2 linked regions of the Homo sapiens genome follow. The protein of the gene in region 2 interacts with the protein of the main gene of each other region in a pairwise test. Each region holds a gene or a part of one and is shown on either strand. Other genes may lie near its edges.

Region 1 (3,653 bases), on a different chromosome or scaffold from region 2:
ATGCATGTGCATGCACAAACACACACACACACATACACACACACCCTCATGTAGCACAGATATCTATCAGCAGAATAATCTGTGGATGCCTTTGGTTGTGTGAGGTGTCCCTTCCAGTCATTCACTTGTCTGGTTAGAGTTTAGGAACCTGAAAAATGACCAACTTTTCTAGTAAATACTATTAACTCATTAATAAAACTAAATTTTCTTCTAGATTACAGATCTCCATTTATTGCTTCTGTTAGTGACCAACATGGAGTCGTGTACATTACTGAGAACAAAAACAAAACTGTGGTGATTCCATGTCTCGGGTCCATTTCAAATCTCAACGTGTCACTTTGTGCAGTAAGTTGCATCTCCTCCAATCGTCTCTTAAGTTTTTATAATTTTAAGCTAATATTAAGATGGGTAACCTGTTTATAATATTCACAATGAGTTTTAAGGATCCTTTAGGAAGGGTCAAATGCAATGAATAAAACTAATTAGTATTCTTAAAAATAAGATGAATTCTTCAGTGATCATTGTACATGGCTCTCATTTTTGGTACTGGATTAAATATTTGATATGTCTTTTTATTACCCAGAGATACCCAGAAAAGAGATTTGTTCCTGATGGTAACAGAATTTCCTGGGACAGCAAGAAGGGCTTTACTATTCCCAGCTACATGATCAGCTATGCTGGCATGGTCTTCTGTGAAGCAAAAATTAATGATGAAAGTTACCAGTCTATTATGTACATAGTTGTCGTTGTAGGTAAGAGGACATTTCCTTTCCATATCATTAATAACATATCCTTGTATTAAGATCTTGGAGATAACAACATAGAGTGAAGAAGGATATTGAAAAGTATAGGAACTCAGGATATGGTGTTGGGCAATTCATCTGCTCTTCTCTACCAAATAAACCCATGTGCAATTGAGGTTGTCTCTTTTCTTGCCAAGATTAAGGAAGAAAAAGAAAACTTTTTAAAAAAAGGATGAAAGCGAATGGTATTACTCGAGCACATTTTATGAAGAATTCAATGTTCAGAGCATTGCTTGCTATCAATTATTTCAATTATGACTATTTTATGGAAACTTCAGCAATTTGCTAAAGCTGGCCCTACTGGCCTAGGGCTACTGACCACTGAAAGTTTACTACTTTTCTGTCCACTGGGTTACAACATCTTTGAGATCTGTGAAGGTAGTGCTTTGTAAACCTCTGTTGGCCATTTTCCTGGGAGCTACCAAGTATTGGTGAGGCCTGCAGGGAAAAACAATGTGGCATGTTTTAAAGTTGCATTACTTTAAAAAATAAATCTGTGCAAAGTTATAGGCTTATTTGCTCTCTCATGTTCTGTTTTTTCAATTTACTTGCTCTAGGGTATAGGATTTATGATGTGGTTCTGAGTCCGTCTCATGGAATTGAACTATCTGTTGGAGAAAAGCTTGTCTTAAATTGTACAGCAAGAACTGAACTAAATGTGGGGATTGACTTCAACTGGGAATACCCTTCTTCGAAGGTAACGCTAATGATTCAAAGCCAGACCTCCAAATACTTAGATAATAAGCCCCAGTGAAGTTTGCTTGAGAGATAGGGGCCTCTTTGGCCAGATAAAATGTAAGAGCCTTAAACACACACACATACACACCCACTCACACACACATACACACACACACAATTTAAGGGAATTGCAGAACAGATAGCACCCACCAAAAGGTGAAATACCAGGAATTTTGTCCTATTCTGCAATAGCCAGGCTATGAATATTAGTTTTCTCTAGGTGATTACATCTTTCCACATTATGTCATTTCTCTGTTCTCCAAAGTTTTTGATCTACATTCCTTTTAAGGGAATTTCTCTTTAAGAGGTGGCATGAGATACACTGCTCCTTAAACAGTGGTCACATTTACTTGTGTTTCTGCAGTTTATATCCATCTCACTTTCACCACGTGAGGTTTTAAAAATCCTAATTCAGTTGGTTCCATTTATTTCTCCTGAAACAAAATATATTTGTTGTCTGCATGAGGTTAAAAGTTCTGGTGTCCCTGTTTTTAGCATTAAATAATGTTTACCAAAGCCCAGATTTAATTCTGTGTGTTACTAGAAGTTATTGGGTAATGTTATATGCTGTGCTTTGGAAGTTCAGTCAACTCTTTTTTTCAGCATCAGCATAAGAAACTTGTAAACCGAGACCTAAAAACCCAGTCTGGGAGTGAGATGAAGAAATTTTTGAGCACCTTAACTATAGATGGTGTAACCCGGAGTGACCAAGGATTGTACACCTGTGCAGCATCCAGTGGGCTGATGACCAAGAAGAACAGCACATTTGTCAGGGTCCATGGTAAGCTATGGTCTTGGAAATTATTCTGTGCCTTGACAAGTGAGATAATTTAAATAAATTTAGGTCACTTAGTGATTCCTATTTTGTTCATTCAGAAGATAGTTTCTAGTTTTTCTTGTTAGGGAGGCCACATGACCTAGAGGTCAAGAGCATAGCTTTGTAGTCAGGAACTTGGGTTCAAACCTCAACTTTAAAGATGAGATGTGCTGATATACAGTAAGAGTTCATTTAGTATTACTTATTATAGTTATTGCTGCTATTAGGATTGTTACTATGATAAATAGTATTAGCTAAGGTAGTTTTTAAATTTTCATTTTATTGCAAGGCTGAGAGGCCTACTTGAATAAGCATGAGCTTTGCAAACTGGGGAAACATTTAGCAATATACAGTTGACCTGTGAGCAACTCAGGGATTGGGGGAACTCAGGGGAGTTCCCCTAACTTTCCCTCCTCTGCAGTCAAAAATCCATGTATAGGCCGGGCGCGGTGGCTCACGCCTGTAATCCCAACACTTTGGGAGTCTGAGGTGGGTGGATCACCTGAGATCAGGAGTTCGAAACCAGCCTGGTCAACATGGTGGAACCCCATCTCTACTAAAAATCCAAAAAATTAGCCTGGTGTGGTGGTGGGAGCTTGTAATCCCAGCTACTCAGGAGGCTGAGGCAGGAGAATTGCTTGAACCCAGGAGGTGGAGGTTGCAGTGAGCCAAGATCGTGCCATTGTACCCCAGCCTGGGCAACAAGAGTGAAACTCCTTCTCAAAAAAAAAAAAAAAAAAAAAATCAAGGTATAACTTTTGACTTCCACAAAACATAACTAATGGCCTACTGTTGACTGGAAGCCCTACTGATAACATAAACAGTCAATTAACACATATTTTATATGTTATATGTATTATATACTGTATTCTTCCAATAAAGCTAGAGAAAAGAAAATGTTATTAAGAAAATTGTAAGGAAGAGAAAATATATTTACTATTCATTAAGTGTAAGTGGATCATCATAAAGGTCTTCATCCTTGTCTTCACGTTGAGTAGGCTGAGGAAAAGGGGGAAGAGGAGGGGGTGGTTTTGCTGTCTCAGGGGTGGCAGAGGTGGAAGAAAATCTGCTTATAAGTGGACTCATGTAGTTCAAGTTTGTGTTATTTAAGGGTCAACTGTAATTGAACTGGAATTAAATTGAACTGGCCTTGAGAAAATCACCTTAATTTTTTGTTTATTCTCTTTCATTTACATAAATGTCTGAGTTTACATGGTAATTTGTGTGGCATCCTACTTATAAGCCTTGGAAAGGATTTTGGAGTTTATATTATGAGAATGCATCAATACAGTGAA
Region 2 (3,653 bases):
GGCCAGGCTGGTCTTGAACTCCTGACCTCGTGATCCACCTGCCTCGGCCTCCCAAAGTGCTGGGATTACAGGCATGAGCCACCACGCCCGGCCTGTATTTTTAGTAGAGACGGAGTTTCACCATGTTGGCAAGGCTGGTCTCGAACTCCTGACCTCAAGCAATCTGCCCACCTCCGCCTCCCAAAGTGCTGAGATTACAGGTGTGCGCCACCGTGGCTGGCCTATATTCATTTTTCAAAAATTTTCTAGAGTTTTACATTTTCATTGCTTTGTACTTTTACTTTGTCTTATTTTACTTTTTCACCATGTGTTTTTCAAAGCTGAAGGTATATTTGATGTGATTATTATAAATCACTTGTCAGGAAGACTTGACTTAATGAATACAGATACAGTTCATTTTTAAAATCATGGTTTAATAATTTTTAGAATTTACCTTTATAATATAGAAAAATACCAAATGTTCTTTATCTGCACTAGAAAATTAAATGATTATTTCATTAATAAGTAAAATTGAAGGGAACTTTTGAAATCACTGAGCAGTTAACAAATTCTCTATAAATACTGTGATGTTAGGAAGACAACAAGGCTAAATATGACATTTAAAGATTTAAGGAAACTTTATGTCTGGCTGATCCTCACCTTAAACTCTAATGAAGATAGAATTTATAGTCTTCCCTTCAAAACTGATTCCATATGCTGACTTTGTTTTGGTGACATTACCATGCTTTCAATTACCCAGACACAAACTTTGGTTTTATCTCTATGCGTGTAACAATATTGGCTGATTTTTGCCAGCCATTTTTATCTTTGAACTACTCACTAGCCTTTAATTGGGTTTTTTGCTTGATTTTTCTCTCTACTTAGTATGTCTTCCTAAATCTTAGAATTATGCTTCAAACACATCCTTCACTTTTCGGAAACCAGTGATAACTCTCTGTTATCTTCAGAGTATAGTTCAGAATTCATAGCCTAATAACAGTCTGCTCAAACCTGTTTTTCTGGGGCCAGCACTATTTCTTTCTTTTTTTTTAATCAGTGCCAGCACTATTTCTTTATAGGAGCTGTCCACTCTAACCAAACCAATCTCTGATTCTTATTTACTCTTTGTATTTTTGTACCTTCGTATCATTCCTTTTTCTTTCTTTCTTTCTTTTTTTTTTTTTGAGACAGAGTCTCGCTCTGTTGCCCAGGCTGGAGTGCAATGGTGCGATCTCGGCTCCCCGTAACCTCTGCCTCCCGGGTTCAAGCGATTCTCCTACCTCAGCCTCCCTAGTAGCTGGGACTACAGGCATGCGCCACCATGCCTGGCTAATTTTGTATTTTTAGTAGAGACGGGGTTTCTCCGTGTTGGTCAGGCCAGTCTTAAACTCCTCACTTCAGGTGATCTACACATCTCAGCCTGCCAAAGTGCTGGGATTACAGGTGTGAGCCACTGTGCCTGGCCTCTTTCTTTCTTCTTTTTTTTTTTCTTTGAGGCGTCTCACTCTGTCACCCAGGCTGGAGTGCAGTGGCACCATCTTGGCTCACTGCAACCTCCGTCTCCTTGGTTCAAGTGATTCTCCTGTGTCAGTCTTCCGAGTAGCTAGGATTACAGGTGCATGCCACCACGCCTGGCTAATTTTGTATTTTTAGTAGAGATGGGGTTTCACCATGTTGGCCAGGCTGGTCTTGAACTCCCGACCTCAGGTGATCCACATGCGTCGGCTTCCCAAAGTGTTGGGATTACAGGCGTGAGCCACTGTGCCCGTCCAGTTTGCCTAGTCTTTAAAATTTTTTTTTTCTCCTAAATTACCAAGTAGCAAATGAAGTAAAATTTGTTGAATTTTCGCTTTTGGTCCTTTGGTGCAGTCTTCCAAATGTTTTTCCTGTTCCCTATGTTGCTTGCTTTTCTTTCTTTCTTTCTTTCTTTCTTTCTTTCTTTCTTTCTTTCTTTCTTTCTTTCTTTCTTTCTTTCTTTGTTTCTTTCTTTCCTTCCTTCCTTCCTTCCTTCCTTCCTTCCTTCCTTCCTTCCTTCCTTCTTTCTTTCTTTTCTTTCTTTTCCCTTCCTTCCTTCCTTCCTTCCGTCCATCCATCCGTCTGTCCGTCCGTCTGTCTCTCTCTCTCTTTCTTTCTTTCTTCTTTCTTTTTTGACAGGATCTCGCTCTGTTGCTCAGGCTGGAGTACAGTGGCCTGATCACAGCTCCTCATTGTAACTTGAACCTCCCAAAGGCCAGGATTACAGGTGTGCATCAATGTCTGGCTAATTTTTTTTTTTTTTTTTTTTTGTAGAGATAGGGTCTCACTGTGTTGTTCAGACTGGTTTTGAATTCCTGGCCTCAAACGATCCTCCCACCTTGGCTTCTCAACGTGCTGGGATTATAGGGGTGAGCCACTGTGCCTGGTCTGTTGCTTTCCTTTAAACCCATACCCCTTATTATTTTAGTATTCCCTTGGTTTTTAATGTTGTGTGGACTTGAATCATAGAATTATAGAGCATTATTGCTGGAATGTTGGAATCCAACCTTGTGTTTTACAGATAAGGAAACTGAAATACAAATAGACTAGATGCACCAAAATTCAAACATTTAGTGATGGGGGCAGAACAAAGACTCAACCCTTGATCTTCTGACGCAAGTTCTGTGTGTTTATGAAACCATACTACTTCTCATCTCTTGTAATTTTGCCTTATTTGCCTCACATTATTTTGCATTTTGTGTATTTATGCCTTCTCATAGATTGAAAACTTCAGGGCAGGGGAACCTTCATATTTACATTGTAAATTTTTTTTTTTTTGAGACAGAGTTTCGCAGTTTTTGCCCTGGCTGGAGTGCAGCAGCATGATCTCGGCTCACTGCAACCTCCGCCTCTCGGGTTCAAGCAATTCTCTTGCCTCAGCCTCCTGAGGAGCTGGGATCACAGGCACCTGCCACCACACCTGGCTAATTTTGTATTTTTAGTAGAGATGGGTTTCACCATGTTGGCCAGGCTGGTCTCAAACTCCTGACCTCAGGTGATCCGCTCACCTTGGCTTCCCAAAGTTCTGGAATTACAGGCATGAGCCACCATGCCCAGCCTTACATTGTAAATTATTTAAACAATGATATAAAGTCTATATACAGTTTCTTTCCCCTATACTTGTTAGGTGTATTAACACCATTAACAAAAATAATATTGTCATGTTTACCATTGAGTTTTTTTTTTCTTGAGACGGAGTCCTGCTCTGTCACTCAGGATGGAGTGCAGTGGGGCAATCTCGGATCACTGTACCCTCTGCATCCCAGGTTCAAGGGATTCTCCTGCCTCAGCCTCCTAAGTAGCTGGAATTACAGGTGCCTGCCACCATGCCTGGCTAATTTTTGTATTTTTAGCAGAGACAGGGTTTCACCATGTTGGCCAGGCTGATCTCCAACTCCTAACTTCAGTTAATCAGCCTGCTTTGGCCTCCCAAAGTGCTGGGATTACAGGGATGAGCCACCGCACCTGGCCAGTGTTTACCATTGAATTCTATCATCTGCTAAAAAATGAATCTCTTACAGGTTTTACTGCTGCAATTTAGTTTGTCTTTTCGAATCTCTTGATAATGCCAATTAATCTTTGGAGGCCTTGAATGTGGATACAGAACAATGTAATGATTTAGAGGAAACCTGGAGGGCTTATCATATAACTAAATGCAG

What was found. The genes of interacting proteins can lie anywhere in the genome.
Region 1: the proteins of NCK1 (region 2) and KDR interact in binary tests that used the Homo sapiens proteins (3 or more experiments, as listed by UniProt).

What each region holds. Positions count from the first base shown.
Region 1 is NC_000004.12:55,111,973-55,115,625, reverse strand, and holds part of KDR (vascular endothelial growth factor receptor 2 precursor), read left to right. Parts: intron 1-214; coding exon 215-345; intron 346-583; coding exon 584-752; intron 753-1,360; coding exon 1,361-1,500; intron 1,501-2,144; coding exon 2,145-2,322; intron 2,323-3,653. UniProt on the Homo sapiens protein: Tyrosine-protein kinase that acts as a cell-surface receptor for VEGFA, VEGFC and VEGFD. Plays an essential role in the regulation of angiogenesis, vascular development, vascular permeability, and embryonic hematopoiesis.
Region 2 is NC_000003.12:136,865,163-136,868,815, forward strand, and holds part of NCK1 (SH2/SH3 adapter protein NCK1), read left to right. Parts: intron 1-3,653. UniProt on the Homo sapiens protein: Adapter protein which associates with tyrosine-phosphorylated growth factor receptors, such as KDR and PDGFRB, or their cellular substrates. Maintains low levels of EIF2S1 phosphorylation by promoting its dephosphorylation by PP1.